Homo sapiens: one gene and its partner. The protein of the gene in region 1 interacts with the protein of each later gene in a biochemical or structural test. Each region holds a gene or a part of one and is shown on either strand. Other genes may lie near its edges. The genes, in order: DAOA and DAO.

What was found.
Region 2: the proteins of DAOA (region 1) and DAO form a complex in vitro, tested with the Homo sapiens proteins (one study listed by BioGRID).

The regions. Positions count from the first base shown.
Region 1 is NC_000013.11:105,454,822-105,471,572, reverse strand, and holds the start of DAOA (D-amino acid oxidase regulator), read right to left. Parts: upstream 5,529-16,751; 5' UTR 5,513-5,528; exon of another isoform or gene 5,358-5,512; 5' UTR 5,285-5,357; coding exon 5,241-5,284; exon of another isoform or gene 5,153-5,240; intron 4,567-5,152; exon of another isoform or gene 4,521-4,566; coding exon 4,432-4,520; intron 1-4,431. UniProt on the Homo sapiens protein: May suppress DAO (D-amino acid oxidase) and SOD1 activity and promote their degradation. Has conversely also been suggested to function as a DAO activator. May stimulate the degradation of DDO (D-aspartate oxidase). May play a role in mitochondrial fission.
Region 2 is NC_000012.12:108,872,585-108,888,732, reverse strand, and holds the start of DAO (D-amino-acid oxidase), read right to left. Parts: upstream 8,642-16,148; 5' UTR 8,509-8,641; intron 8,424-8,508; exon of another isoform or gene 8,342-8,423; intron 3,736-8,341; 5' UTR 3,727-3,735; coding exon 3,533-3,726; intron 1,284-3,532; coding exon 1,169-1,283; intron 1-1,168. UniProt on the Homo sapiens protein: Catalyzes the oxidative deamination of D-amino acids with broad substrate specificity. Required to catabolize D-amino acids synthesized endogenously, of gastrointestinal bacterial origin or obtained from the diet, and to use these as nutrients.

The DNA of each region.
Region 1 (16,751 bases):
AACATAACCTACTTTCTAGACAAATAGCACTCCCTTTCTTATTTTCAAGTAAGTAGCAAACACTTATTTGAAATTCTGAGCCCATCAATTTATTTTTTATATGAAAGGATGAACATTTCCTAGAAGCCCTCTTGGTATCATCTAGGTAAACTTCATATCAAATCTGTGCTAATATGTTATTTGTCCTGGAACTGGTTCTTAGTCCAAATTTTATACCATTTATTCGACTCATATCCTTCACCTTGATCAATATAAAGTGCATTTGCCACACATTCGGTTTGACCAATATTATTCTCTGTATAGTGGCTTTAACTCAATTATCAAACTGTATTTTAAAAATTGAATGGCCAGGTGTGGTGGCTCACATCTTCTATAATCCCAGCACTTTGGGAGGCCAAGGGGGGCGGATCACCTGAGGTCAGGAGTTGGAGACCAGCCTGGCCAACATGGTGAAACCCTGTCTCTACTAAGAATACAAAAAAATTGGCCGGGCACGGTGGCTCATGCCTGTAATCCCAGCATTTTGGGAGGCCGAGGCGGGCGGATCACAAGGTCAGGAGATCAAGACCATCATGGCTAACACGATGAAACCCCATCTGTACTAAAAACAAAAAATTAGCCAGGCTTGGTGGTGGGCGCCTGTAGTCCCAGCTACTCGGGAGGTTGAGGCAGGAGAATGGCATGAACCCGGGAGGCGGAGCTTGCAGTGAGCTGAGATCGTGTCACTGCACTCGAGCCTGGGCCACAGAGCGTGACTCCATCAAAAAAGAAAAAAGAAAAAAGAAAAGAAAACAAATTAGCTAGTTGTGGTGGTGTGTGCCTGTAGTCTCAGCTGCTTGGGAGGCTGAGGCAGGAGAATTGCTTGAACCCAGGACGCAGAGGTTGCAGTGAGCCCAGATGGCACCACTGCACTCCAGCCTGGGCAACGGAGCAAGACTCTGTCTCAAAATAATTTAAAATAAACAAATAAATAAAAATAGAATATTTTGGTTGGGTGTACATGGGTGAGCTGCTTTATTTTATGTATGTAGAATTTCTAAAATAATTGTGCTTTTACCGTCTAGCTTCTATAATTTATAAATATGTAATAAATAGTAGATAATGTTAATGAGTGTGTTGTTTGGCATTTTGTTAGTTGGCTTAAAAATGAGAATGATAAAAAAGGCATGGTATCAGGGCATTTTAAAATTATTAGCCATGGGGGTAAAAAAGAAAAAGGAAAGTGAGACAAGTTGCCAGCATGGCTACACAGAGAAATTCCAGTTTCCCCAAAACTGGAAAAGAATAGCATTTTATATGAGGACAGTGTGCTTAATACATAACAAAGATAGCTGCTATATATTAGAAATTATGTTTGTTATTCCTTAAGCAGTTATTTTTAATCTTGATAGTTTATTCTGGTTAGATATATAACAAGAATATAACTCTAGTCTCTTCTTGCAAAAAAAAAAAAAAATTCCAATGAGCAAGATGATTAATCCAGTAAAGAAACATGTCCAGCCTGGGGACAAAAAAAAAGTAGATCAAATTTTGGTTAGGAAGATTAACCAAGTAAAAATCCATTAGCTGGAATTTATTGTAAAAGCCAATAAGAAATCATCCAAGAAATAAAAAACTAAAAATAGCCCTCAATATGGAATAAAAAAAGACATAGAGTGATTCTCTTTGCATTCAATAGAGACTGAGAAAACACAACTGTCAGAATATTAAATATTGCTTTGGAAAGTTTGGAAATATGATGAAAGTAAATTAGACAATTGCTAGAAAAATATCCTTCAGTTGGTTCCCCACACATCACAAAATTCAGCTTGATACCATTTTCTTTTTCTTGACAAATTTAGGGCTTTTATTAGTGCTATGACAGAAAGAAGGAATGCTACCAAAAAGACCATTTGAATTTACTTTAATTATTTCAGAGTAGGGAAACGATAATTGGAAAGTAGTTTATAACCTTGAGTTTGTAAAATCTGTAAACTCTCACAACGATGTGAAGGCAGAGAAAGTATCAAACTCAGTCCCCTATAATAAGCTCATTACTTCATAAAATATATATCCCCTTCATCTATGTGTCAGAAATGTTTAAAATTTTCACCACTGGTACATTATTTTTGGGCCTTACATTTTTGTGGATTTGGTGAATACCTGAAAGAAATAAAATAGGATTGGATAATGTGAATTTCTTTTACACTCATTGTCATTATTAGAAAATAAAGCCCAAATAAAATATGACAGAGCAGAATTAGTTTTAATACAGGAAAAATTTGCAAGTTGAAGAGGAGAAAATGCAGCCAGGAACTAACGGTACACACCTAGGTGGTTAAGACAGTGTGGATGGTGATAAGAGAACATAAGGAAAATTCTGCCCTCCAGCTACTTTGAATTTAGTGTTCTGCCTAGTATGAATATTATTGAACCCTATGGTATGGTACTTAACTATCTAATGAGATGATAACTCTCTCCTACCTGTAGAAAATGTAGATGCCTTGTCTACTTCTGCTTATATACATGCTGAAACATACTGATGTCTGCTGTCTTCTTAATTTTACACTAATTTTTAAAGTAAAGATTGATTTGATAAAAAATATGCACTTGGAAAAATTATTCTGCTATTCCCACATTTCATGTTCATGTCTATTTACAGCTAACAAGACTAGCACGCAAATAGATATATGCTCCAAGATCTCGCTTCTTTTCATGTCTGGCTTCTCCCTGTTTACCCACAATTATTTTCATAATATTTTACTGTGATTCCACAAACCAGAGACAAATCTCTGAAGGGAATAGTGTTCCAAGGCATGGCCATCATTAGAAGACAATAAGCTTGTTTTCCTTCCAACATTCTTAGCTTTGTTGAAGGCTAAGTGGAAGAAATTAACATACTGCATGCCTTTCAATGAAAATTGTTTCTAATTATTTTGCTTCTCAAATTATTCCACCAGGCATTGATTAGACTTTTTAAATTCATTTCATATCTGTCACTCTCAGCTAACATTTGTAATTTTTTAATTGTTGTTAAAGAGAATCTATTAATTGAAATATAATTATCCTCTTTAATAAAAGTAAATAAAATTACTTGGGTAGCCAACATATTCAAGTAATCATCAATCTTGGTCAGAAATTAAAAGTAAGATGAGCATCTAAACTTGGCACTCAAAGACTGACCATCTGCACCTTTGAGGCAAAATAAAATTCAGTTTAGGAAAACCTTATGAAAATCAATGTTTTAATTATGCTATCAAGGGCTGTGGTAGGCAGAAACTTCTTTGCTCCACCCCCCAAAAATGTCCAGTTCTTAATCCTGAAAACCTGTGGAATCTTGTGTAACAAAGGGACTTCATAGATGTAATTAATGTTAACGACCGGGAGGTGGAGAGTGACCTCGGTTATCCTGGTGGGTCCAAGGTAGTCACAGGCATCTTTATAATCAGTGAAGGTCTCCCTGCTGTGCTTAGAGAGGGGGATGCTGGAAGAAGAGTGGTCAGAGAAGCAACATTGCTGACTCTAAAGACAGAGGGCAGGCCACGAGCCAAGGCATGCAGGAGGCCTCCAGAAGCTGGGGCAGGCAAGAGAATGGACTCAGCCCTGGAGCCTCCAGAAGGCATGCAGCCCTGCCCATTCCTTGCTTTTAGCCAGGTAAGATGTCTGTCAGCCTGATGAGAACTATGAAATAATGAATGTGCTTGTTTTTTTCACCACTAAATTTGTGCTTATTTGTTATAGCAGTGATAGAAAACTAAGACAAGGCTATATCTTGGCATGTCAGATTTTAAGTTATCTGCTATAGTGTAGAAAAGCCCAGAGAAGGAGCTGCAATTTGTCTCTTTGAAAAAAAAAAAAAAAAAAGGATCACCTTCTAGGGGATTAAACATTAATGGGCTGGGTGTTGTGGCTGACACCTGTAATCCTAGCACTTGGGGAGGCCGAGGCGCTGCTGCACTCCAGCCTGGGCAACATAGTGAGACCCTGTCTCCAGAAAAAAAAAAAAAAAAGAAAAAGAATTAAACGTTGACAGATTATTAAGTGAGGCACTGTGTGAGACCTAGCTTGGGTTTGCGCCTATAGATATTTAAAAGTTGATCCAGGTTTTCACTTGAAAGCAGAACTACTGCCTTAAATTCCCACTTCACAAAAATAAATCATGGATTGAGGGAAAAATTTACTTGTTTGCTTTATAAAAAGAGATATCGATCTCTTCATAAGTTATATATGTTTTACAAGGTTGCACTGTTTGAACTGTAAGTGTGAATGGTTGCTAACACTCCAGAAACCAAGAGGTACATTTTAACTGGAAAAATTTTCTTCCTGTATCTTACAAATTAATTGAAGTTTGTCTACGCTTGAAAATATGTCAAAAGTATTATGTAGCTTTACCACAGTTTTATCTAACTTCTAGAAGAATTTAAATTCATATAAAGATAAAGAGTAACATACCAATAGAGTTTAGAGAGTTTTCAGATTTGCTCAGAAGAATGCTCCTTTGAAAACCTATGAAGTAGATTTTACCCAATGTATATCTGGATCTAAAAATTAAAGAAAATATCAGTCGTGTTCAGATTCCTTTATACCCTGCAGAAGAGAGAAAGAATAAGCAACATCAATGGAGCATATAACATGTATGGTTTAGCACTTTCATATTTTTAATCTTAACTATTCAGCCAAATACGTCTTATTTTTTTATTTTTATAGATGAAGATATTGAGGTTTGCATTTTTTTTTTATAAATTGCTCAGTCATACAGTTGGTAAATAGCTGACAGGAGAGTTCACTCCAGGTCTTACTGGCTCTCAAACCTTTGCTTTTTAAAAATCTCCAAACTAGCGCCTCTCCCTTTTAACTGCAAAATAAGCACAAAGTTATCCCAGTTCTACACAGTGCTAAACAAATTCCTGTGAGCAAACAATTAGCACAGGCAGATGGAGTGAGGGGGAGGTGGTTTATAACAATGGAAAGCTGTCTGCCTGCTGTGGATTAAAGATTCAAACTCTTTGATCCTCCTCCCAGGGATAGGTGAGGGCCTATGTCTCCTCCTCATTAACATGAGTGATCCTTGGCTAGGTTCTCCTTTGACTGACAGAATATGGGAGAAAGTAAGGCTGAACCATATACTGGGCTCAGGCTTCCAACCCTGACATGTTCCACTTCCTGTCTCCAGGAACATTCACCCTGGGAGCTCTGTGCTGCCATGCAAATGTCACATTGCACTGAGGCCGCCATGCTGTAAAAAACCCCAAGCTACCTACCTGAAAAGCTGGAGAGAATCAGCACCCATCAGCTTTTCCAGCATTTTGGGTCCTCCCAGCTAAATCATCGGCATTGTGAAGCAGAGATGAGACCTCCTGCCATGCCCTTTCCAAATCCTGGACCAACAGAATCATCATATACACTAGTAAGCTTTTACTTTAAGCCACTAATTTGGGGTGTAGCTCTTTTGCAGCAAAAGATCATCAGAACACTGCCATGCAGGAGCTGATAAACTTGCTCACTGTTATGTATGTATCCAATGACTACTCACACACACATTACTTGCTTCACTCTACTTTCTGGCTTTCCATTCAGCAAATTTTAAGAAATGAAAATGTTATTCGTGGGAAATTAACTCAAGATCAATATTGTTGTAGTTAATCTCTTTGTAAATGGTAAAATATTAAATTATTGTGAGTCATTTTTATTTAAAGAAGTTTGGTTCTTTAAATGAAAGAAGTTTGGGTCTTTTGTGGATACTCTGCATATAGACATTCTAGACATGAAAGAATGTTGAAGACAAAGAATGTTGAAGAAATATAGACATGAAAGACTGTTGAAGTTTGGTTTTTTGTGGATACTCTGCATATAGACATTCTAGACTGGAGTGATACATCTTGTTCAGGTTTCTATGTTTTTAAAATGATAACTTGACACGCCTACCAATGCCAATTTTTAGGATATATATTTGTATATCTGTGTGAACTAAGGAAAATTCAGGAATGATTAAACCTACATATTTTGCCAGGAGAGACTGGATAATGTAAGTCTTTATATTTTTCACAACTTCAAGTTTATAGCATCCAAATGAGCAATTGCTGACATACCTAGGGGATTTCTCTGCAGGTTCAAGTCTGATCTGGCCTGAGGGCAACACTCTTACTGAGTGTGTTCCTAGGCACTCCTTGGCAGTTGGCTCCAGGCCACAATAAAGAGCCCTGATGATTCTCTGAGCAGGCCCAACTTCCATTCACATTCATGGGAATATGAGGATGACTTGTGATCTTCAGGACTTAGATAGACTCTTTCAGTTGGTGTAGGGTAAGCTCAGCTCATCTCTAGAGACTTCCCACAGTGGAGCTCATGCATGACTCTGTGCAGGTGGCACAGGACAGCCAGAGACAGGCACCTAAGGAGTGCACTACCAGCAGGTGGACTCTCCACTGAGGGAGGTAGACAAGGGAGAAAGCCAGGTGTCCACATGGAGCAGGCCTTACTCAGGGAGACTGAGATTTTGCTCTACACATCATAAAACGTGGAGGTCATTAATGGAATTTTTCACAGGACATGACTGCCATAGCCATGATAGGGTCCCTGGCTAATCTTTCAATTATGATAGCATCATAAGATAATTTTGAATATGAGGAGAGAAGAATAACTCTAGAACTGCAATATCCAATATGGTAACCCCTAGCAACCTAAGGCTACTTAAACTAATTAAAATTAAAACTTTAGTTCCTCAGTGCCACTAGCCATATTTCAAGTACTCAATAACCACACACACTTGGCTACCATGTTGGACAGCACTGACATAGACCATTTCCATTACTGCAGAAAGTCCTCCTATTTGACAGTCCACCTCTGGAACCAATCCGGAGTCTTTAGGGACCTAAAAGACTGAGGTGCTAAATCTCAGAGCAGTACTCTGCTTAATGCTTAGTTAAAAGACTTGCTAATCTATATAGTTGATCTAGAGAACTTTAAAGGCAGCTAGTTCGTAGCAACTATGTTGCTGGACCTTGAAACTGTATGTCAGGAACTTGGTGTTCTAGTGGTGACTTCTCTTTTATCTACCATGTTCACACTTTTCCTACCACTCATTTATCCATTCAGAAAGTATTTCAGAAGTCCCTATGATTTACCAGGTGCTATTTCAGACACTGAGGCACTGTGGGGAACAAAACAAACAAAGTCTCCTTTCTCAGGGATCTCACATTCCATGTGGTGATGCAGACTGTAAAAATTCACACACAGAAGATACTTTCATACAGTAGGAAGTTTTATGAAGAATATTTCAAAAGGGGTGTGGGGTGGGAGAGGTTGATGTTCAGGTGTTTGCTTGAGAATGAACTGTTCATACAAAGAATCAATAATTCATTTGTTCCACAAATATTTATTGAGTACCTGTTATTAGCAGGCTACTTTATTAGGTTGCCAGAGCAGGGTTTTCTTAGCACAATTAAAACACAATAACATTTGTTAGAAATTCAAAGACCCATGTCCACTCTTGCATAATGAATCAGAGTCTCGAGGTTATGGTCCAGAGACTGGTGTATTTAAAAATCACTGAAGTAATTTTAAGGTATAGCCAGAATAGAGAGGACACCGGCATTCTTCCTGAAACTCAACACACTAGACAATGAGAAATCATTAAAATGAAGTAAATATTTTGATTGAGATTGTTTTGGCTTCAAAATTAATAATAGCTTGGAGAGGAAAGAAGGTAAATTATAAAAGACAATTAAGAATCTCTTAAATGTATTTAGATAATAGTTACAGAGGGACAAAAATGAGTAGGATCTGTGATAACAGAAAGAATAAAAATAAACAAAAGGACTTAAAAAAGTAAGAATAAGAAAGAAGTCAACAGTAACCCAGAAATTTTCAACCTCATGTCTAAGAGAATGATGATGCTATTTAGCAATATATCCAAACCAAAAATACTACGAGAAGTAGGTTGTGTTCACTTGTGATGTTGTAAATTTATAATTACTTTTTCTTTATTTTGGATGCATGCTTTTCCTTTTTCTGAAGTTCTGAGACATACAAAAACAATAAAGAAAAACATGATTTTATGCCAGAAAATAAGATAGGAACAATTCCTCATGCTCAATATAATTTTAGCCTCCCACATAATCCAAAATATATGTGCAGCAAATTGTGGGAGTTTCGAAATTAGATCCAACTTCTTATTACAGTTAAAGATAAAAAGAAAACAAGGCTTTGTCTTTTTTAGGATCTTTTTTGGAACTTGCAGTATAAAAATACTCTTTCAAAAAACATAACTCAACATCAAAGTCCAATAAAACAGTAAACTGGACTAAATATATTCGTATATTAGCTTGACCTAAGTCTGGGAATTGAGCCAGACTTTTCAAATTATACTATCATTATTTACAGAAAAAGGAAATGTTAACTAACATTATTAAATAAAAGCACATATACACATGCATAACAGGAAACAAAATGAATGTTAATGTTAACAAATGTTGAAGATGTGTGTGTGTGTGTGTGTGTATGTGTGTGTATACAAAGCAGATAAGATATTCTCTTGAGCATGATTGGATTGGAAATAGTAGCTATGCCAGGGGAAATTTTATGCAATCCCCTTGGCTGTGGGCTACACATTTATTGTGTTATACAAATATGCCAAAAAAAATGCCATTTACACAGTTGCCTAAAACAAAATTGAAATTATACATTAGTGTTTAAAGTTTTTTTTTTTCTTTCGCCTCCTTTTCTTAATGAATGGCAGATAATGAAATTTAGGAGTTTGCAAAAACAAACGTAGTTTAAATTGTACCTTAGTTGTCTATGAAATACAAATACATTTTATATATTTATGGAAACATTTGTGTGTGTTCAGAAAGTCCATATTTTGCATTCAAGATTGACCCTGTTTTAAGTCATATTTCATTTGCTACACTCAAATTGACTAAAGGCAGATACTTTGGCATTCACTTTTTGATTCATTATTAAGGCATTATTTTGATTGATTCTGCTTAAGGTAGTTTTCCTGATCAGAGTAGACGTTTAGGCCACCTATCTAGACAAATATCCCACTTTCCTATCTGAAATATTTGATCTCTCCTTACCCATTCTAGGGTTTTGTGCATCTCTAAGATGATCATCTTGGTGTGGGGTCCTGATCTTCCCAGTGACTTAGCAGCACAGTAATTTGGCTGAAATGTTGATGAGTTCAGACAAGAAGAAGGTGATGATGACAAGAGAGCGTCACGGGGAAATTCTGCCCTGAGGAAGGAATAGTTTGAGGCTGGAGAGATGTGCTACCCCCGCCACTCTTTCTCAAATGGTATTTATTCTTGAAAGACAGTGTAAAGTGTCTGAAATTGCAGAAGCAAAGTGGTTGCTGTAGAAATACATACCATGACGTGCTTCAACTCGTTTCCTTAAAGGTTAAAGAAAGAAAAATGTGCATCTTGAAGAAAATTCCAAACCCTCATTGTGAGGAGTAATCCAATATTTCAATTTAGAAATTCAGAGGGTTTTAAATAAGAAGCAATTATTCTAGGCAAAAAGCAAATATAAATGCCAGCAGTCAAAAAACCAGTGAAAAGATATGATTAAAACTGAGATGTAAAAAATAGATATTTATCTGAAGTTCTTGACTTTTAAAGTCCACAGGCATTTTCCCTTAAGAAAAGAATAAAAACATTAAATGTTAAAGAAAAACATAAGAAATATTATAAAAAAGATAATTATTCAGAAAATATTAGTATTTTGTTACCAACACCAAAGACAAACAGAGTATTTTTCAATGACTGGAAGCCAGTTTAAGTGAGGAAAAAAAAAACACGTTATTATTACTGCTATTATCCATTATTTTTATTTTTACTTTTGGCAGTGTTATTTGCTAATCAGCTAACGCATGGTAGTGGACTTGATCTTTTATGTATTATAAAGGTTGTATCTTCTCATTTTAAGGGAATATTTTAACTACATTGTCCAATTGTACACTATAAATGCAGCAAGACCAGGTCAAGTGAAACTTCAGTGGGCGAGTCTCTTTCTTTTCTTGTGTGTAGGGCTCTCCCTCCCACCTGCTACCTTGACTTTTTAGATTCCCTGTTCCCCTGGTCTGTGCTTGTATAATATACAAGCTGTCCTTGACATAGCACGTTCCTCTTTTTTCCTTCATTATTTTTAAATGGTTATAATATACTCTTAAAAACAAATTTGAATATTACTAATAGATTCTAATATTATCTTACTCTCTGAAATTAAGTAGTGATGTATATTGTGTTAAACGCTTGTCTATGCTGATGCAACATATGGGCAGGTCTCTCTCTGGGCCTATATGTATTTGTTTCATATCGTTGTACACAGATTCATTCATTTCTTTAAATGGGTATATAATATTTCAGTGTATAAATTAATCACTCGTAAGTGGCTAGTAATTTAATTTGTTGCTACTTCCTCCCAAGATGAACAGTGCTTTAGTGAGCATCTAGCCATTTCTGTATCTGTCTACTTATTGATTTATGCATATATTCACCACCTTCTTCTTCCACAAATAGACTACACATCCTCTTCATGAGAGTCTACACAAAAATGTTACAAATAACATTTTTAACGCAATAGTTCCCTTAAGCTCACACTTGTAATGTTTCTGCCCAGACTTAAGCCAGCCAAATGTGTGGAAATAAATTCCATTTGTGTATTAAATATCAAAGATAGGGAACATTCATAACAAATGTAAACATAGCCAAGGATTCATTGAAACATTTCCACATACCATCTCTCCAAATCTGGTTTTAAAGAGATTGTAACATAATTTCAGGAATAAAGACCTTCTGGAATTGAGATTTATGGAAAAGAGATTATAGCTCCACAAGATTCTAGGGATGCAAAAGGTCTGGAGGAGCCTCCAGGCACAGGCACTTTGTTTCCATGCTGAAGATTCAATGTGGGTTCTGAAAATGCTGCTTTAGCAAGCACACATTTGTTCCACTGGTGTTGGATTTTCTATTGATTAATAGTTACCATTTTTTTCTTCTCTTAGGAAAGACAACCTGTAGGCACAGAAATCATTGCTCTGCTTACACTGAAATCTCCTGCTGACTTTGAGAGCTGAGCATTGGATTTTGATGGGAGAGTGAAACTTAGTGAAGAAATGATTTGAACCTTTGTTGATCTAATACTTCTGTGATACAGTTATCTAAACAGAATGAGTCTAAAGTCAGTATAAAGACCTGTGTCTCTCCATGTTTTGCTGCTTATAATTGCAGAGGAACATTTTGAGATAGAAAATTTTATCCCTCTTTCAAGTGACTTTTTATAAAACATAACCTTTTAAGAGAGGTCATTCTTTTGAAAAATTGTCTGAATACAAAAAAGTAACTGAACAGCAAGGGATTGTAGCCATAATGTTCTTGACCACTTTAGATTGACAAATAGTATCTCAAAATTGATCAGGTTCTGGAGAATCTATTGAGGTTGTATGGAGTAACCAAGTGATGGAAGAGGTTGGAAGTGAATAATTTTATGTGGTATTATGTGATTTTTTTTGGTGGGGGTAGTGTCTGGAGCTGAGCATGATGGAGCCTAGATGGGGCAGCCTTCTAATGCTCCCAGTATTTCGCAAATCATATGTCACGTCAAAATTGTAATGACAAAGCTCACAGCAGCTGCCTACGCCAGGTTTGGTGCCAGCTCTAATTAGAGCATTGATCATTTCTCTCCCCTTCATGAATGCACATGAGTGCACATTTTCATATATAAGGGCAAAGGACATTTCAAAGTTTGGATGGAATCTTTCCTACTTAGAAGTAATAAAAAACAATACTTTGAAATCTTACCAAATGTTAAACAAATAGCAACAATTTTTCCATTTGAAGATGTGTGTCTTAAGGTCTGTTGGATCTTTCAAATTTCTATTTTGGACATGGAAACTACAGATGAAATTTAACTTACTCAAAGTTACACAGAACTCCTGGCTGATCTCTTTTACTTAATTCTTCTAAAATCTAAAGTAAGAATAATTTTGAAATTTTATTGGTAATGCTTAAATAACAAAAGTTACTTTAATATGTTACATGTTTGAAGTTTCATTTATACTTAATATCTAATTTAACGCTTGTGAAAATATTATTCAGTATTTTTTTTTCTTTTCTAAAATGACTTGTTCAGGGCTCCTTTTGGGATTTTAAGTGAGAAAAACTCTATTTCATAATATTGTTACCATGCTCATCCAATAACACTTCATAGATGGTTAGCCATCTCTAAAATTAAATTTTGTAGTTGAGGAGCATTGAAAATATCACCTATATTTGGATTTCTGTTTAACACTTCAAAATGCATTTTATCATAATTTAAAATTTGATTTAAATACAAACCTCTTTATAGAAAACCTGATAAATGTAGTTTTATTTGTTTGCTTGCTTTTTTTTGCAGGGAGGGATATTCCCTTGATACCACTCTGTCTTTATGACTCATCGGTTATTTATAAATGTTATCATCGTTTTTCTGATTTTTAAATAAGTTTCAGAATTAATACATTTAACTGAATAAATCAACCAATAATGTCAAACTTAAAATGTGTTTGTAACAAGAGTCAGCACTTATAATGAAAAATATAATTAATTAAGAGGTTACAAAACTTATAAGCAGAGTTTACTCTGCTTACAGAAGGGCAAACATTTGTTATTTGATACAACATATTAAGTATTTATCCCATGCAATCACTGTCCTAGGCTTTGAGTTTATAGTGATGATCAAAACGATTTACAGGTTTCAAGAACCCTGCTCACATACAGCTTACAATCCTATGTGGGAAAATGATAATAGTGAAATAATTACATTAATTAATATATACTTGATTCAAATGTAAATAATTATTCTGAAGGAAAGACACCTACATCAAGAGAGCTGGCTTAAATTCGGGGATCAAGGAAGCCTTTCCAAATAATTGTTGATGGGATTGAAAGACAATTGTGGGATGAGATGACCACCTGGGCTTGGTATGGGGGAGATACAACTGTCAGTGGGAAAGCCCTGGAGATGGGGAAGAAGAACTTCTTCAATGGAGAGAAGTTCCTGAGTGAGGAGAAGGCAGGTGACCACAGTGTGAAGTGATGCTATAGAAGCCAACCACGTGGCTATGCAAGCAGAAGGAATTTATCCAAAAAGAAAGGGGGAGGCATTAGAGGGATTTAGTGTGGAGAGTGGTGGTGACAAGATCAGATTTGCAACTTGCAACTCTCTCTCAGGTTGCAGCATGGGGGATGATGGGATGAGCCCAGAGTGGACTGACGCATTTCCAGTAGTCCAGGAGAGTGGCATGTGGCATGAACTGTGTGAGGAAGGGGGAGCTGGGGGGAAGAAGTGGGGTAACAACACCCTATTTGTTGTTTTGCTTCTTACACTTTGAAAAATATTTCAAAGCAGGAATGCTATTCCAGACATTTAACACCTGGAACAGGAATAAGTACCAACCAAATATCGTGGGAGACTGACGAATCAGAATGAACATCAGCTCTGCATGGCAGTATGGTTTTAAAACACTTTCATGTCTATGTAAACAAAGTAAAAATGTTAAAAGATTATTTTACGCCTTTGGTTATCAGATAGTCAGACTTTTAGTAGTTTATATTTTATTGCAGTCTGATGAGGTCTGCTTTTAATAGTAGTTTTCTCTTCTTCCCCCAACCCCATTACATTAAAATGGCAAATGATACTTTTCCTTGTTAGTAAGCAAGGCCAAGTTAGGATTATCAGAAAGTCAATACCTAAACACAAAGAATAGTGCAGCCAAACCCGGAAAATATTGTCTGTTTTGCCAAGAGGAAGCATCTCACTGAGTATCTGGAAAGCTCATTGTTTCTCAATTATGGTTATTTTATTAGTTGCCATAACTCAGCTATAGTCATAATGTAACTGACCAGCACCGATGATGAAATCAATAACCACTACAACAGAGTAAATGCTGTTTGGGGTGCAAGAAACATCATTTTTATCTAAGTGAAAGTACATCTCATTTAAATGTATTTCAAGTTGACATTTTGTATATATTGTTAATAAACTTCAATTTTACTAAAATCTCTGCAATATCTAATCAATATACTGAATGATATGCTCTCCCCTTTTGTGCTCAAATAGGATCTGTTTATATTTTAGTTAAGAAATGCTATGCCATTTTATTATATTAGAAAAATATTTACTGGTAGGAATTTGGTTTAAACTCTCCCTGTTATTCAGCTGGGAAGTATATTACAAGTAAGTCTTTAAAGACTACAATTGGAGACCGGGCACGGTGGCTCATGCCTGTAATCCCAGCACTTTGGGAGGCCAAAGTGGGTGGATCAGGAGTTCGATACCAGCCTGGCCAACATGGTGAAAACCCCGTCTCTACTGAAAATACAAAAATTAGCCAGGTGAGGTTGCAGGCGCCTGTAATCCCAGCTACTCAGGAGGCTGAGGCAGGAGAATCCCTTGAACCTGGGAGGCAGAGTTTGCAGTGAGCTGAGATTGCACCATTGCACTCCAGCCTGGAGAACAAGAGCGAGATTTCGTCTCAAAATAAAAAAAAAAAAAAAAAGAAAAAAAAAGACTAAAATTGGAGAGTTTAACGTATCAAATTTAGGAGATAAATGGTAAATAATATGTTTGTATATGAAAATATTTTAATACAATATTTGAAATGAAGAAACTGAGATCACACAACTTTTTGAGCGTTGAGTTTATACATTTATTTTCTTTCTTTCTTTCTCTTTCTTTCTTTCTTTTTTTTTTTTTTTGAGATGGAGTCTCACTCTGTCACCCAGGCTGGAGTGCAGTGGCACAGTCTCAGCTCACTGCAACCTCTGTCTCCTAGGTTCGAGTGATTCTCCTGCCTCAGCCTCCCGAGTAGCTGGGACTACAGGTGTGTGCCACCACGCCTGGCTAGCTTTTTGTATTTTTTTAGTAGAGATAGGGTTTCACTGTGTTAGCCAGGATGGTCTTGATCTCCTGACCTCGTGATCTGCCCATCTCGGCCTCCCAAAGTGCTGGGACGTGAGCCACTGCGCCCAGCCTATTTTCTTTCTTTTACCTATATCATTTCATTTTTTTATTGATACGGAATATTTTACATATTTATGGAGTACATGTGATATTTTGTTACATGCATAGAAGGTGTAATTATCATCACGGTTTTGGGGATATATATCCCCTTCAGTATTTAGCATTTTTATGTTTTAAGAACATTTCACATTCTCTCTTCTCGCTACTTTGAAATATACAATACATTGTTGTTAACTATAGTCACTCTATTCTGCCATTGAACATTAGAACTTAAAATACTTTCCAGCCAGGTGTGGTGGCTCACACCTGTAATCCCAGCACTTTGGGAGGCCGAGGTGGGCGGGTCACCTGAGGTCAGGCGTTCAAAACCAGCCTGGCCAACATGGTGAAATGTTTGTATTTGTAAAACTACAAAAATCAGCTGGGCGTGGTGGTGGGCACCTGTAATCCTAACTACTCAGGAGGCTGAGGCAGGAGAATTGCTTGAACCTGGGAGGTGGATGTTGTAGTGAGCCCAGATTGGGTCATTGCACTCCAGCCTGGGTGACAAGAGCAAAAGTCTGTCTCAAAGAAAAAAAAAAAAAAAAAGAACTTATAGCTTCCAACTAACTCTATGTTTGCACCCATTGATCATCTTTTCTTCATTCCCCACTCTCAGCCATACACACTTCCCAGCCTCTGGCATCTATCATTCTACTGTCTACCTACATGAGATCAACATTTTTAATTCCCATGTATGAGTGATAACATGTGGTGTTTGTCTTTCTGTGTCTGGCTTATTTCACTTAACATAGTGACCTCCAGTTCCATTTATGTTGCTGCAAATGACATAATTTCAATGTTTTTGTGCACAATTAGTATTCCATTTTGCTTATCTATTTGTTAATTGATGGAGATATAGGTTGATGCTATATCTTTGCAATGGTGAATAGTGCTACAGTAAATATGCCAGTGCTGGTCTCCCTTTGGAACACCGATTTATTTTCCTTTGGATAAATACCTGGTAGTCGAATTTCTGGATCATATGGTACTTCTATTTTTAATTTTGCTCAGAAATCTCCATAGTATTTGTTCATAATGGCTGTACTAATTTACATTTCCACCAACAGTGTATAAAAGCTCCTTTTTCCCTGTACCCTCACCAGTATCTGTCATTTTTTTGTTTTTTTTAGTAATAGCCATTCTACTGGGGTAAGGTGATATCACATAGTGGTTTTGATTCACAATTCCCTGATAGTTAGTGATGTTGAGCATCTTTTTTATATACTTGGTGGTTATGCCATTTGTATGCCTTTTTTTGAGAAATGTCTACTCATGTCCTCTCATGTCCTTTGCCTACTTTTTAATAGGATTATTTGTGAGATTTGTGAGGTTGTTTTTTGTTTGTTTGTTTGTTTGTTTGTTTGTTTTCTTACAGTTGAGCTATTTGAGTCCCTTGTATTTTCTGGATATTAGTCACCTGTCAGATGAATAGCTTGCAAATATTTTCTCCCATTCAACAGGTTGTTTGGAGATTCTCTTTAAAATAGCTGCAACAAACAAACAAACAAACAAACCCGGCCAAGCACGGTGGCTCATGCCTGTAATCCCAGTACTTAGGGAGGCTGAGGCGGGCGGATCACGACGTCGGGAGATAGAGACCATCCTAGCTAACACAGTGAAACCCCATATCTACTAAAAATGCAAAAATATTAGCCTGGCGTGGTGGCGGGTGCCTGTAGTCCCAGCTACTCGGGAAGCTGAGGCAGGAGAATGGCGTGAACCCGGGA
Region 2 (16,148 bases), on another chromosome or scaffold:
ACAGAGCATAGTGTCAGAGACCCCAGCCTCATCACTTGCTACTTGAATTCTCTGAGACTCAGTTTCCTTGTCTGTATCATGGAGTTAATAATCACTCTTGGCCGGGTGCAGTGGTTCACGCCTGTAATCCCAGCACTTTGGGAGGCCAAGGCAGGCAGATCACTTGAGGTCAGGAGTTCGAGACCAGCCCGGCCGTCATAGTGAAACCCCATCTCTTAAAAATACAAAAATTAGCCAGGCGTGGTAGTGCGCACCTGTAATCCCAATTACTCAGGAGGCTGAGACAGGAGAATGGCTTGAACCCAGGAAGCAGAGGTTGCAGTGAGCCGAGATCATGCCAATGCACTCCAGCCTGGGCAATACAGTGAGACCCTGTCTCAAAAAAAAAAAAATACTCTTGGTCCCATGAAAGGTAACAGATAATGTGGATAAAGCCCTTAGCACAGTGCCAAAGGTTGAATGAACCTTGAGAGCTGGCACGGGGCTCTGGGCACAGCGCCAGACCACCCTCTCCAAGGAGCCTGAGCAAACCGTCCCAGGGCTGTGCTGTTCCTGTTAGCACACTGGACACCATGGAGTCACAGATGGCCTGGGTTCAAATCCCAGCTCTGCCACTGGCGAGCTCTGTGGCCTTGGGCAAGTTACTCCATTTCTTGGAGCCTCCGTTTTCTCATTTATTAAGTGAGGATAAGGACAGCCCTTACCTCCCGGTTATAAAGAGAATTAAATTAGTCGCTAGCTGTAAATTAGTTAGGACTGGACCTGGCACATAATAAATGCTTTGGCAGTTTTTGCTTTGATGAGTATTTTATTCCTTCTTGATAAAAAGCCTTGGGACCTTCAGGGGCACTTGAAACCTTTTGGCTTCAGCACCAAGTGCCCGTCACTGCAGAACATGTTTGTATTTTAGCCATGCTAATCAAAGGCTAGTTTCCCCTGGGCATCAGAAGATTCTTTGTCCTCTGCCAATTTAACAGCAAAATGTAAAACAAAAATAATTTTCAAAGCAAAAATAGAATTTAAACCAAACCTGTTTTGAACCCAGGAGTCTGTTGCCTACGAGACTCAAAGCACCCCGCCCTCATCTGTGATTAAGGCTCTGCTGCACCCACCCTCACTACCCCAGCCCTGGGTGCTCATCCCTCATGGTCAAGAACTGTTCACCCACCGGAATGGCTTCATGGAAGAGGTTGTAGCCCGAGATTAGGAACAGGCCCAGGTTTTCAGCGTTGGGAGAATGGACATGGCTCAGGAGATAGTCAAAGGTCTGTTGGCTCCAGTCCCTGGAAGGGTCATGAAGAGTTCGATCACCCAATGCCCTGAGCTGGGCAAAAAACCTTAGGTCAGCTGGCATGGGGCTGTGGCATGATCAGGAGCTTGGGGTGTGTCCAAAACCCAGAAATCCACCACGTTCACTCCTGCAACTCCCCAAATGCCTTGGGTCTTCTCCCTCCTAAATTTTCCAATATTTCCCCATTAATAGAATAAAGAAGAGAGGGAATGAAGGATGCCCCATCATAACCATATGGAGTGCACCTCCAGCATGGGATTACATGGCTGATGAGTTTCAGTGAAGTCCTTGACCTGGCTTTGGGGATTATGAGCCACACTGTTCAGTCTGGCTGCAAGCACCCCTCCTTGTAAACACTGGTGGCAGACATCGACTTGCCGCTCCTACAACTTTTCCTCCTCCCCCTGGGCACACAGCTCACCTACATTTCCTAGACCCTCTCGCAGCTAAATGTGACTGTGTGACTTGTTTCTGGCCAAGGGACTCTAAAGACTCTGCACGTGTGGTCCTGCATGATCCTTCTGCAGTCACCAGCCCATGTGAATGGTGACATTGAGGTGACCTCAAAAGCACGTGGAAAAACGGCAGAGCCATTAGATGGAAGGAGCCTGGGCCCCGAATCACTGCCCACTGATCAGAATCATTGGTTTTTTACAGCTGTGTGAATTAAAATTCTGGCTGGTTGCAGTGGCTCATGCCTATAATCCCAGCTCTTCAGGAGGCTGAGGCAGGAGGGTCACTTGAGGTCAGGAGTTTGAGACAAGCCTGGGTAACATAGGAAGACCCTGGCTCTACAAAAAATAAAGAAAATTATCCAGGCATGATAGCATGCATGTGTGTCCTCGCTACTTGGGAGGCTGAGGTGGGAGGATCACTTGAGCCCAGGAGGTCAAGGCTGCAATGAGCTATGATCATGTCACTGCACTTCAGCCTGGGTGACAGGATGCCTCTTAAAAATTTTTTTTTAATCTGTTTGAGCTGCTATTCATTGGGTGTTCCATTTGCTGAACCATCTGGCAGTTTCTAAACTACCATAATGACCTTTGCAATTTATTTGATAAATCTGTGCATCCATCCACCCACTTAGATGTTCACCCACTTAGAAGTTTTCTAGATTCAGCTGGGTGCAAGGGCTCACACCTGTAATCCCAGCACTTTGGGAGGCCAAGGAGGGCAGATCACTTGAGCCCAGGAGTTCAAGACCAGCCCGGGTAACATAGTGAGACCCTATCTCTATTTAAAAAGATAAAATTTGGCAAGGCATGATGGCTCATGCCTGTAATTCCAGCACTTTGGGAGGCCAAGGAGGGCAGATCACTTGAGCCCAGGAGTTCAAGACCAGCCCGGGCAACATAGTGAGACCCTATCTCTATTTAAAAAGATAAAATTTGGCAAGGCATGATGGCTCATGCCTGTAATCCCAGCACTTTGGGAGGTCAAGGTGGGCAGATCACTTGAGGTCAGGAGTTCGAGACCAGTCTGGCCAACATGAAACTCCATCTCTACTAAAAATACAAAAATTAGCCAGGCGTGGTGGCAGATGCCTGTAATCCCAGTTACTTGGGAAGCTGAGGCAGGAGAATCGCTTGAACCTGGGAGGCAGAGGATGCAGTGAGCCAGGATCACGCCATTGCACTCCAGTCTGGGCGACAAGAGTGAAACACAATCTCAAAAAATAAATAAAAATGTATAAATTAAAACAGAGGAAGTTTTCCAGATTCACCAATCATGTGGTATTGACAGGCACCCAGTTTAGGGAAGACGAGACAAAGCCTCCTAGTATCTGGCACAGAGCAAGGGGCTTAATATTTATGAATCTTTTCTTTATTTTTTTCTTTTTGAAACAGAGTCTCACTCTGTCACGAGTGCAGTGGCGGAATCTCAGCTCACTGCCACCTTCACCTCCTAGGCTCAAATGGTTTTCCTGCCTCAGCCTCCCGAGTAGCTGGGATTACAGGTGTGCGCCACCATGCCCGGCTAATTTTTTGTATTTTTGGTAGAGATGGGGTTTCACCACGTTGCCCAGGCTGATCTGGAACTCCTGGCCTCAAGTGATCCTCCCACCTCGACCTCCCAAAGTGCTAGGATTAAAGGCGTGAACCACCACGCCTGGCATTTTCTTTATTTTATGCTAGATCAGAGCTTCCACAAGGGGCTTGCTCTTGGTGATGGGAACCCTGACTCCCTCTGCAGACTTAGGTCCATGGGCACCCCAGGCTACCCTATGTGACCCTCACTCACGCCTCCTGTGGGTTGTTGGGGTCAGAAAGGTAGGGCTGCCAGAGGCCGGCAGCCACGTCGGTGGTGGTGAGTGGGGTGAAGCGGTCCGCGTAGACCTTTATGTCCAGTGGCTGCAGGACTGAGTGGTAGCGCTCATGGATGCAGAGGGCGGTGGACAGCCCGATGACTCCTGCTCCAATCACCACCACACGCATTGCAGCAGCCTGTGGGAAGGAAGGGTTGAGGCACAACATCATCACCATCATCTCCATCATCCTTAGCGCCATTGCCACCATCCACTGAAGGCTTAGAAGGTGCCAGACACCACCAAGCCCTTTTTATATTTGACCTTCCCGATGACCCCTAGGAGGAAGGAATATCATTGTTCCCGTTTTGCAAATGGAAACACTGAGGTATGGAGAAGTGACCGAGACTTGGCCACAGTCACACGGCTGGTGAATGATGCAACTTTCTCTGGGGAGCGTCCCCAGACACCCAGTTTCTGGGCTGGGAATAGAAAAGACCCAGCAGAGGGCACGACCAACTGTAGGCTGGGTAGGCCGGTGGTTAGTGCGATGGGCTCTGGCTTCAGGACTCAGCTCTGCCACCTACTGGCCGTTAACTTTGGGCAAGATGCTTCAACCTCTAATAACCTATGCTTGAGGGGATGGATGGGAAATTGAACAAGATGCCAAACGTAACAAATTTAACAAGCTGCCTGATGCAAAAGAAGTAATATACTGACATTTGTGGAGCACCTACTGTGAGCCAGCTGGCCCCGGCACTAAGTGCTTCACAAGCATCCATTCATCCAAGTCTCCCAACACTGTCATGAGGTAGGGGCTGCTGTTATCAGTCCCGTCTTACAGAGGAGGAAACTGTGGTTCAGAGAGGTGATGTGACTTACCTGAAGTCACACAGCCAGTTAAATGGTACAGCTGTGACTTAATTTCAATTTGAGTAAACTCAACACACGCTTAATGCACACCTACCATGTGCCAGGCTGGCAGCTAGCAAATGCAGCTATGAGCATGACAGACGCAGTGTCTGGCCTCAGAACTTGGTCTTCCAGCACAGAACTCCACCTGCCTTGGGGCACAGGGCTGATTGGGCCCTGAGAAGTTTAGAAGGCCTACCAGCTTTTAACCTTGAAGCTACTTAAGCCCGCACAGCAGGGAAATATTCTGCAGGCTCCTGCTGAGGCAGAACAAGAGAATTATTTGTGCCCAGAAGAGCCAAATTCAACTTTCCCTCATCTTCACTCACAACTCTCCTCCCGCAGACCTCAGCTCCTGGCAACTCGGGCCTGTGGCCCTGGACAGCGGGACATTCTTAATATGGCCTAGTTTTATAAAGGAGGGAAAACGGCTCCAGCCCACAAGAACTGGACTCTGTTGGGGTTTCAGAAGCCAAGTTGGAGATAGAACCAACAAACAGAAAGGTATCGTTCCTCTAGGCAATTCTCCTTCCAGCTTCGAGCCCGAGCTTGGATACTGGGGCTTAGGGGACAGCCCCTCTCAGGGACCCTTGGTCTTCTCTCTTCCCTCTTCCCCCATACTTTGCCTCTGGAGACACAAGCTCTTCATCTGCAAAACAGGGTTAATCCCAATCTCACAGGGTCATTTTAAGGATTAAATAAGAAGTTTAGCAAAAGTTCTTGGTACCACGCCTGGCACAGAGTAGGCCCTCAACACACAGCAGCCTCCTTCCTGTCTCCTAGCATTTTGAAAAATCACATAGAACAAAGACATTGCAGGAACAAAAGGAGAGAGGGAGGACCAGCTGCAGTGGCTTACGCCTGTAATCCCAATACCTCGGGAGGCCGAGGCGGGTGGATCACGAGGTCAGGACTTCAAGACCAGTCTGGCCAAGATGGTGAAACCCCATCTCTACTGAAAACTACAAAAATTAGCCAGGCGCGGTGGCAGGCGCCTGTAATCCCAGCTACTCGGGAGGCTGAGGCAGGAGAATCGCTTGAACCTGGGCAGCAGAGGTTGCAGCGAGTCGAGTTCGCACCACTGCATTCCAGTCTGGGCAACAGAGCGAAATTCTGCCTCAAAAAAAAAAAGAGGAGAAGAGAAAGGCAGAGTCAGACCTGGCTTCACTTCTGCCTTGCTGTGCGACCTTGGCTAAGTTAATTCCCCTCTCTGGGCTTTTTGACTGTCTGCATAATTTCCGGAGAGCTGACCACTCTTTTTCTTTTTTTTAAGAGACAAGGTCTCACTCTGTCACCCAGGCTGGAGTGCAGTGGCACAATCATAGCTCACTGCCACCTCCAATTCCTAGGCTCAAGCAATCCTCCCCCCTCAGCCTCCCAAAGCGCTGGGCTTTCAGGTGTGTGCCACTGCACCCGCCCGCTTGACCATTTTTATATGTTAACAATGAGAAGGCAGAGGAATAAAGGGCTTTCTGTATTTTTCCTAATTCTCCATGAAGAATCTAAGAGACAGTATGGCCCAGGCTGAGAGTCAGACAGACCCAGGTTCGCAGCCTGACTTGGGCACACACCAGCCATGTAACCCTGGGCAAGTTGCTCAACTTGACTGAGTGAGGGTGACCAACCTCCCCAGCTTGCCCAGGGCTGAGGGTCCTCCCAGGATGCAGACTTTCAGACTAAAAGTCAGTGCATCAGAGTCCCAGGCAAACCAGGATGAGTTGGTTAATCCTAATCGAACCTCAGTTTCCTCATCTATAAACTTTATTTTTTCGAGACAGAGTTTCACTCTTGTCGCCCAGGCTGGAGTGCAATGGTACAATCTTGGCTCACTGCAGACTCTGCCTCCCGGGTTCAGGTGATTCTCCTGCCTCAGCCTCCTGAGTAGCTGGGATTACAGGCATGCACCAACATGCCTGGCTAATTTTTGTATTTTTAGTAGAGACAAGGTTTCACCATGTTGGCCAGGCTGGTCTCAAACTTCTGACCTCAGGTGATTTGCTGGCCTCAGACTCTCAAAGTGCTAGGATTACAGGCGTGAGCCACCATGCCCGACCTCATCTATAAACTTTTATGAGAGCTGACAAAGCTCCTTGCCTTATTGTCTCCTCACTGGAATATCAGCTCCTGGACACCCAGGTGGTGAGAGGCAGAGCCCAGGCCAGCCTGACTCATAAGCCTAGGTGCTTAAATGCCATGCTTGCCAGTAAATCACATGGTTTGAAAAATCTGAGAATCAAGCCGGTAAATAGGAACAGCTGAAGCTTCAGAGTCCTGCATTTCAAACATAAAATATAATATAAAATAAGATAAAATAAAATAAAATAAAATGCCTGTAGGAATTTTTAGAGTGTTGGTAGGAATAGAATGGAAAATCAAAAAGGCCGGGCACAGTGGCTCACGTCTTTAATTCCAGCACTTTGGGAGGTCGAGGCTGGCAGATCACTTGAGGTCGGGAGTTCAAGACCAGCCTGGCCAATATGGTGAAACCCTGTCTCTACAAAAATACAAAAAAATTAGCTTGGCATGGTGGTGCACGCCTGAAATTCCAGCTACTCGGGAGGCCGAGGCAGGAGAATCCCTTGAACCTGGGAGGTGGAGATTGCAGTGGGCAGAAATCATGCCATTGCACTCCAGCCCAGGTGACAAGAGTGAAACTCTGTCAAAAAAAAAAAAAAAAAAAAAATTTAAAAGGAAAAAAGTGTGAGTCCTAAGTCAATTATCTTTTTTTAAAAAAATTCAAGATATGAGTCAAAGTTGACACTGATTATAGCAACGTGTGTGTGTGTGTGTGTGTGTGTGTGTGTGTGTGTTTTAAAATACAAAATAAATGCATGAGGTCCTCATGACAAGCCAGAGACAGATTGTCAGATGTGGCAGATCCAGCCTTAGGTAAAATCATTCATGCGTGTAGGTAATGAGCTTTTGGACTTAAACGCACCCAGCTCAGTTATTCGGTTGGACATTTTCGTGTTGTTGCTGATGTTTTTATTAGTGTTGCCGTTCTCCTCTGTTTTACATCATTACTTCAACCCAGCAAGCTTGGAGTATGTATCCCAGAAGATGCAAACAGCTGGGATTATTATATTTGTGTGTGTGTGTGTGTGTGTGTGTGTGTGTGTGTGATTAGAATGTCTGTGTAAGTGTGGAGCAGGAAGGGAACCAATGTATTTTGGTCTCTGCCACTTGCCAGACACCTGTAGATGCAGTACCGACATAATCCTCTCAATCCTCTCAACTGCTCTAGGAAGTAGGGAAGGTTACCGCCCTCATTCTGGAGGCTGGGACTGAGGTTTAGGGAGGAGAAGTCACCCACCCAAGGTTACGCAGTCAGTATGGGACAGCATTCGGACCTAGACCCAGTTCTATCGGCGCTTTCTGCACTGCTCCAAAAAAATATTTAGGCAGTTGGCATGCAGTTGCCACTTGATGCTTTCTGCTTGTCTTTCAGTCTTGCATTTATCTGCCTAGGACCTCCCTTGTCCCCTAGAAGGCAATCTGAGACAGCTGATGCCTTTGATTGCTATGTGCCCATAGCAAAGAATATGAAAGACTTCTTTTTAAAAAAAAAAATCAGTAAGCCAGAGATGAGGCATTTGAATGAACATAATTAGTTCTCCCTGGTTGCACCACACGGCTACTTCTCATGAAGTTATTTGCAGAGTTTATCCTTGAAATGGAACAGAAGCTATAAAAGTTTGAGAACCAGCCTACCAACTCCCCCACCAAAAATAATAATAACTACCATTTGAGTACTTGCTATGTGCCTAGATCTGCTCTAAGCACTTTACATGCACCACCTCTTTTAACACTCAGACTCACGCTGTAAGAGGGGAGTTATGATCCCCATGTTCCAGGTGAAGAAACTGAGGCTTGGGGAGGGAAAAATCACTTACCTATGGTCTCTCTGCTGGATGTTTGAGAGGCTGGATCTCTCCTTTCCTGTCACCTGCCTTAGGCTGTAATGTTGAGCCCTGTCTTTGACATTGGGAGGACATGAAATCCTTTGCCTCTCCCCTCTCCCAACCCCTGTCCCCAGCTCAAAGGTGCATCTGCCACTCACCGGAAGTACCAAACTGCTGGAGAGACCAGACAACTGCAGTGCGGGGACACAGGATGCTATTTCCTGAGGGGAAGCTCCTGATTCTGGAGCGTCTTGTTTCCAGCCCTCTGTCCGCCAGCCCGGACTGGAGTGCAGGGTCAAAGTCTGGAGCTATGGACAGGGCACGGCTTGAGGGGTGGGGCTCGGCACTGCACTGCCCACAGAGACTGGACCCAGGCCCGGCCGGGAGACCTCGCTCCCAGTCCCTGAAAAGTTGCCTGACTTTTCTGGCTGATCTCAAGCCCCTGTGGACAGGCCTTGGGGGAAGGAGGGAGGGCAGGCATTCTTGGAGGGTTGATGAGCACAAGAAGGTCTGTCTCTCTGGCCAGCTGGAGAGGATCCCCTTTCTTCCTTCTTCCTGCTGCCACCCTGGGGGAGGGTCAGGACGTTCCATGGGGCACTGTAGGCCTGGCCTGCGGTGGGGGTGGTCAGCCTGGCAGCCCCTGAGGGGAAAGGAGAGGCACAGGACAGGGGCTCCCTGGGCCAGCCCGATGCCATTCCAGGACGCTGGGGAGATGAGGCCAAGGAGAGACTGGAGGTGACGCCTGTGTGGGCCATGAGGATGCGTGGCTCTTTGCTCCCGTATCCCAGAGACGCAAGCAGCAGGACTCCAGGCCCTTCCTCTGCCAGGGATAAACATGGAGCTGTGATTTTTAGAGCCCAGAGATCTGCAGGCACCTCACTGTACAGATGGGAAGACTGAGGCCTGAGAGAGAGGGACCAACCAGCCCTGAGGGAGGCATTCTTTGGGTCAGCTTTAGCAATCCAGCCTCTAACACCTGCCTTTAGTATCATCAAATAAAAAGACGAAGATGAAATAAGAAAATGCATGCAAAATACTCACTGCATAGTATTTTTTCCTTTTTTAAAAGAGGGTCGGCTGGGCACAGTGCCTCACACCTGTAATTCTGACACTTTGGGAGGCCATGGTGGGTGGATCACCTGAGGTCAGGAGTTCGAGACCAGCCTGGCCAACATGGCGAAACCCCGTCTCTACTAAAATTACAAAAAATCAGCCAGGAGTGGTGGGGTGTGCCTGTAATCCTGGCTACACAGGAGGCTGAGGCAGGAGAATTGCTTGAACCTGGTGGGTGGAGGTAGCAGTGAGCCAAGATGGCACCACTGCACACTCCAGCCTGGGCTACAGAGCGATACTCTGTCTAAAAAAAAAAAAGAAAACAAAAAAAAAGAAAAAGAAAAGATAACAGACAGGGTCAGGCCAGGCGCAGTGGCTCTTGCCTGTAATCGCAGCACTTTGGGAGGCCGAGGTGGATGGATCACTTGAGGTTAGGCGTTTGAGACCAGCCTGGCTAACATGTTGGTGAAACCCTATCTCTACTAAAAATACAAAAATTAGCCGGCCGTGGTGGCACATGTCCGTAATCTCAGCTACTCGGGAGGCTGAGGCAAGAGAATCACTTGAACTGGGAGGCGGAGCTTGCAGTGAACCAAGATCAAGCCACTGCACTCTAGCCTGGGTGACAGAGTGAGACCCAGTCTCAAAAAACAAAAAAAAAAAAAAAAAAAAGAGAGAGAGAGAGAGAGAGGATCTCACTCTGTCACCCAGGCCAGAGTGCAGTGGCGCCTTGAACTCCTGCGCTCAAGCAATCCTTCTGCTTCAGCCTAGCCAGGACTACAGATGCATGCCATAACACCCAGCCAAATTACTTACTTTTTGTAAAGACAGGGTCTTGCTATTTTGCCCAAGCTGGTCTCAAACTCCTGGCCTCAAGCAATCATCCCACCCCGACCTCCCAAAGGGTTGGGATTACAGGCATAAGCCACCACGCTATGACATATTTTTTTTTCTTCAATAATAAAAAATGGATAGGGTGAAACCCACTTTTTACTTTATATCTAACTAGTTTGAATTTTAATACAATAGTCATGTATCACTTATATAACATATGGCCCTTATAAAGTTCCCTGTGTGTTTAATTCATCATGGGAGCACTTGAACATTCATAAAAGTTAGTCCAATATCTTCATGCTCCCCACTGCCATCACAGCAATAATTTACGTTTTGTAAATTGCGGTGTACCAATTCTAAATACCTGGATTTTCTTTTTTTCTTTTTTATTTTTTTCTGAGACAGAGTCTCACTCTGTCGCCCAGGCTGGAGTGCAGTGGTGCCATCTCAACTCACTGCAACATCTGCCTCCCAGATTCAAGCAATTCTCCTGCCTCAGACTCCCGAGTGGCTGGGTTTACAGGCACATACCACCTCACCTGGCTCATTGTTTTTCTATTTTTAGTAGAGACAGGGTTTCACCATGTTGGCCAGGCTGGTCTTGAACTCCTGACCTCAGGTGATCTGCCCACCTTGGCCTCCCAAAGTGGTGGGATTATAGGCGTGAGCCACCGCACCCTGCCTTACCCAGATTTTCTCTTTGAATCTCGAAACAGCCCTGTAAGGCAGGTGCTGTTATTATCATCCCCACTTCAGAGTTGAAATTCAGAAACTTGCTCCAGCATCCACTGAAGTTAAAGATGGCTATCCTAATATCTATCATGCCCACGCCTATATATATACCCAAGATAAATGAAAACACACATCAATCAAAAGGCTTCTGTAAGAATGTTCATAGCCCCTGTTAACTAAAAAAAAAAAAAAAAAAAAAATCACAAATGTGTAAATTCAGAGAGGAGAAGAAATCTTATTTCTTATAAGGGGTTATAGCCCACAAGGTGACCAGTCCATGGCCTGGGAAGTATGCCTCCTACCAAGAACAGAGACGGGCACTTTGAAGGAGGAGGGGTTGGGTTAGGAGCTTTGTGCTGAAGGGGTTGGCTGAATGATATATCCAGCAGGTTACAGGAGAAGCTATGAATATTTATGAAGGTGGCCCCAACACATGTGTATGAACAAATGTGCATGTAACATACAACCCATGTTCACTTTGGGGTGGAGACTTAACATTTAAATGTATTACAATTAGGCCAGCCATGGTGGCTCATGCCTATAATACTAGCACTTTTGGAGTCCAAGGTGGGTGGATCGCTTGAGCCCAGGAGTTTGAGACCAGCTTGGGCAACATGGCGAAACCCCTGTCTCTACAAAAAATACAAAAAGTAGCCGGGCGCAGTTGCGTGCACCTGTAGTCCCAGCTACTTGGGAGGCTGAGGTGGGAGGATTGCTTGAGCCCAGGAGGCAGAGGTTGCAGTGAGTTGTGATCGTGCCACTGCACTCCAGCCTGGGCAACAGAGTAAGACCCTATCTCAATCAATCAATTGATCAATCAATCAATCAATGTATTACAATTAGAACCTACACATCAAAATGTCTTTTCAGGAAATGCAGGCACATGAGGTTGCGGTTTCGTAACCCCACCAGAAGCAGTCCATAGTCAGTGATCTTTTTATTAGGAGAAAGTTACCAAACTCAGTCTCTTGTTCAATCAAAGCTGTAGTTGTTGTTATGACTGGAGGAACAGGGTGTCAGTTGGGTGTCTGTGTGCTAGATGAGTTGTAACTGTTTTAATATTGCTTCTTCTGAGGCCAGTGCTTGTTTCGCTGCTAGAGAAAAAGAAAAATCTTGTAACATAATTAGAACATAGTTTATTCCTTAAGAGTAGGGGCACCTGACTTAACCCTTGCCTGACATGGCCTTAGGCTGTGTTTATAATTTGGTATCTTATTGCCACAAAAAGTCTGTTCTGTCAGTCTTATAATCTCTCTCTCTTTTTTTTTTTTTTTTGAGACAGAGTCTCACTCTATTACCCATGCTGGAGTGCAGTGGAAAGATCATGACTCACTGCAGCCTCTGCTTCCTGGGCTCAAGCGATCCTCTCACCTCAGCCTCCCCAGTAGCTGGGACCACAGACACGCACCACCGTGCCTGGCTAATTATTTTATTTTATTTTATTTTATTTTGTAGAGACAGAGTTTCACCATGTTGCCCAGGCTGGTCTCGAACTTCTGGCCTCAAGTGATCTGCCTTCCTCAGTCTCCCAGGGGACTGGGATTACAGGTGTGAGTCACCATACTCAGCCCTCTATTTTAGCATTGATGCTGATCTTTTCTTGTATCTAAACCACAAAAGGAAGGAAGGGAGTGTAATGTGGTGTGCCTGACCTCCTGTCTCATCATGGCTGGAAACAAAGTTTTTAAAGTTTTTCTGGGGTTCCCTTTGCCAAGAAGGGTGTTCATTTAGTGGACCCTTAGGATTTTATTTTGAATTTACACCCCAAACTGGAAACAACCAAATATCTATGAGACAGAGGATGGATAAACAAATTGTGGTGTTTTCAGGAAACAAAACTCCCCCCTCCAAAAAAAAATTCACACAATGGAATATTATACAGCAATGAAAAGGGAAAATACTGTTATATATAGCAACCTGAATGAATCTCAGTCATTAGGTTAAGAAGAAGCAGCCAGACACTTAAGAGCTCATATTGCATACTTCCACTTTTATGAAATTCAAGAACATACAAAATTAATTGACAATAACAGGCTGTGAGAAGAGTGGTTACCTCTGGGGGAGATACTGACCAGCAAGAGGCATGAGAAAATTTCCTGGGATGCTGGAAACGTGCTCCTTAATCTGGGTAGTGGTTGCAGGAGTTTATGCATATGTAAAAATTCATCAAGCTGCATATTTAAAATTAAGATTGATGCACTTGACACAATTAGGGAAGAAAGAGAGAGAGAAAAGGAGAGAGGAAGTAAGGAATAAAGGAAGGAAGGAGGAGGGAGTGGAGGGGAGGAAAGGGAGGAAGAAAAATGAAAGAAGGAGAAAGCAGGCAGGCAAGGAGGGAAGAAGGAAAGAAGAAGAAAGAGGGTGAGACAAAGAAAAAAGGAAAGACAGACTGTGCTTATAGTCACACTGCCTGGAAGCAGAGGCCCAAATGTGAACTAGGTTAGGGTTGCCAGATCTAGGAAATAGATTCCAGGACACCATATGTGTGTGTGTGTGTGTGTGTGTGTGTGTGTGTGTGTGTGTGTGTGTGTATCTATATTTTTTTTTTTTTTGAGATAGGGTCTCGCTCTGTTGCCCAGGCTGGAGTGCAGTGGCGTGGTCTTGGCTCACTGCAAACTCCGCCTCCCTGGTTCAAGTGATTCTTGTGCCTCAGCCTCCCAAGTAGCTGGCATTATAGGCATGTGCCACTGCACCAGGCTAATTTTTTTATTTTTAGTATAGACATTGTTTGCCATGTTGGCCAGGCTGGTCTTGAACTCCTGATCCTCCCACTTTGGCCTCCCAAAGTGCTAGGATTACAGGCGTGGGCCACCTCCCCAGAACGCCCTGTATTTTACCTGGCGACCCTCACCCAGGTTGTGTCCAGAACTGGGGTACTCAGTCACTACACTATAGCTTTTAATTGAGAGCCAGAGAAGGACCCCAGGCATCAGTGACCAGGACTGGAGGTGGCCTGTGGCTTCAGAAAGTCCTGTACTGTGTACAAACAAGCATACTTAGAATTATTATTTAATTTTGGAAAATGAGCTTGGGGGACAACTATTGTTTTCGTGATATAATCTACAGAAAGTAAAGTTCCACAGTATCTTCTCGGCTATTGGAATAAGGAGAAAGGTACCCACTAGGAAGGGTGTAAGAATTTTATCTTTATTAAAAAGGAGAGTGAGTTTAAGAAAAAGCCAGGCACAGTGGCTCACGCCTGTAATCGCAGCACTTTGAGAGGCTGGGGCAGGAGGATCTCTTGAGCCCAGGCGTTTGATACCAGCCTGGGCAACATGATGAAACCCCATCTCTACAAAAAATTAGCCAAGCATGGTGGCACAGGCCTGTAGTCCCAGTTACTTGGGAGGCTGAGGTAGAAGGATTGATTAGCCTGGGTGGTTGAGGCGGCACTGAGCTGAGATCTTGCCATTGCACTCCAGCCTGGGTAACAGAGCAAGACCCTGTCTCAAAAGAAAAGAAAAGAGAAAGGTGAGAAACACTGATACGGTTGAAGCTGTCCATTTTACACTTAGGGAAATTTAAGTGCCCTGAGACAGCTCTGTGGGACCAAGGCCCTTTCCACTACCCTGAAGTCCTAAACTCACTGATCCTAGTAATGGGAGGCCCTAGACTTTCGAAAGCAACTTCTGTTTATTTGGCTGGAATTGTAGAAGTTAAGGGTCTTTTTGACCCCACTGGGTGGTTGATAAACAAAACGACCTCCTGGTAGTTCTGAAATACAGTCAGGCCAGGGCAAAAACATTTACCTGGAGAATGCTCTGCAGGAGTCAACCCTGGTGGGGCCAGGAAGTTACAGAATAACAGGTTAACTCCCACTCTCTTTCTCAGACAAAATTAGCTTTAATCACTTTTTCAAGTATTAAGCAGTATTTAAGGATTTCAAGTATTTATGCAGCAGGCATAAAGAAGAAAGTAAGAATCCCCTGCAATTAATCCCACCACCAGGAAATAGGGACCATTACTTTGGGCAAATATTTCCAAATGTGAACATAAACACGGGCAGGTGGCAAAAATAGTATCATGTGACATATGTTGGTTCCTCTGTTCACTTGTACCAATATGGCATACCCTGAGCCTCTTTCCACGACCACTATAGAACAGTGACGTACTTTTTATTTTTCTTTTAATTTATTGACAAAGTCTTGCTCTGTTGCCTAGGCTGAAGTGCAGTGGTGTGAACATAGCTCACTGAAGCCTCGAATTCCTGGGCTCAAACGATTCTCCTGCCTCAGCCTCCCAAGCAGCTGGGACTACAGGATGGCATCCTTTTTACACAGGATGCCAATGTACCTGGATGTAACATTTTTTTTTCTTTTTTGAGACAGGGCCTCACTCTATTGCCCAGGCTGGAGTACAGTGGCGCAATCACAGTTCACTGTAGTCTTGACCTCTAGGGCTCAAGTGATCCTCCCTCCTCAGCCTCCTGAGTAGTTAGAACTACAGGCATGCACCACCAACCTGGCTAATTTTTACTTTTTTTTTTTTTTGTAGCGACGGGGTCTCCCTATGTTGCCCAGACTGGTCTTGAACTCCTGGGCTCAAGCGATCCTCCCATGTTGGTCTCCCAAAATGCTGGGATTACAGGCGTGAGCCACCATGCCCAGCCAGATGTAACAATTTTTAAAGTCAGTCCGTAGGGTTGAATTTACCTGTCATTTCTAATTTGTCGACATTAAAAACATCCTAGATGTGTTTCTTGGCACACTTGCCTGATCGTTTCCATAAGGTCAGTTCCTAAAAATGGAATCATTGTGCCAGGGTTTGTACATTTAAAATATTGATCCATTTTGCCAGACTGCCATCCAGCAGGGCTCTAGCAATTTACACATTTAAGGAGGCACTTACCCTCATATGCCCACTTTGTACTTACATGGCCCTGAGAGTGACAGCCTCCTTAAATTTTGCATCCTTCCTTCTCCCCATCTTACTCCAAGCCCTGCTAAGGAGATGGCAAAGTTTCATGTCCACTGGGCTTTGTATTTATTTCTTTGTAAAGTGCCTATTCTTTTTTCCCCATTTTTCTATTGAATTGTGTTGGTTATTTTTCTTATTAATTTGAAATAACTCTTTTTTTTTTTTTTTTTTTTTGAGATGGAGTCTCACTCTGTCACCCAGGCTGGAGTGCAGTGGTGCGATCTCGGCTCACTGCAATCTCTGCTTCCCGGGTTCAAGCAAT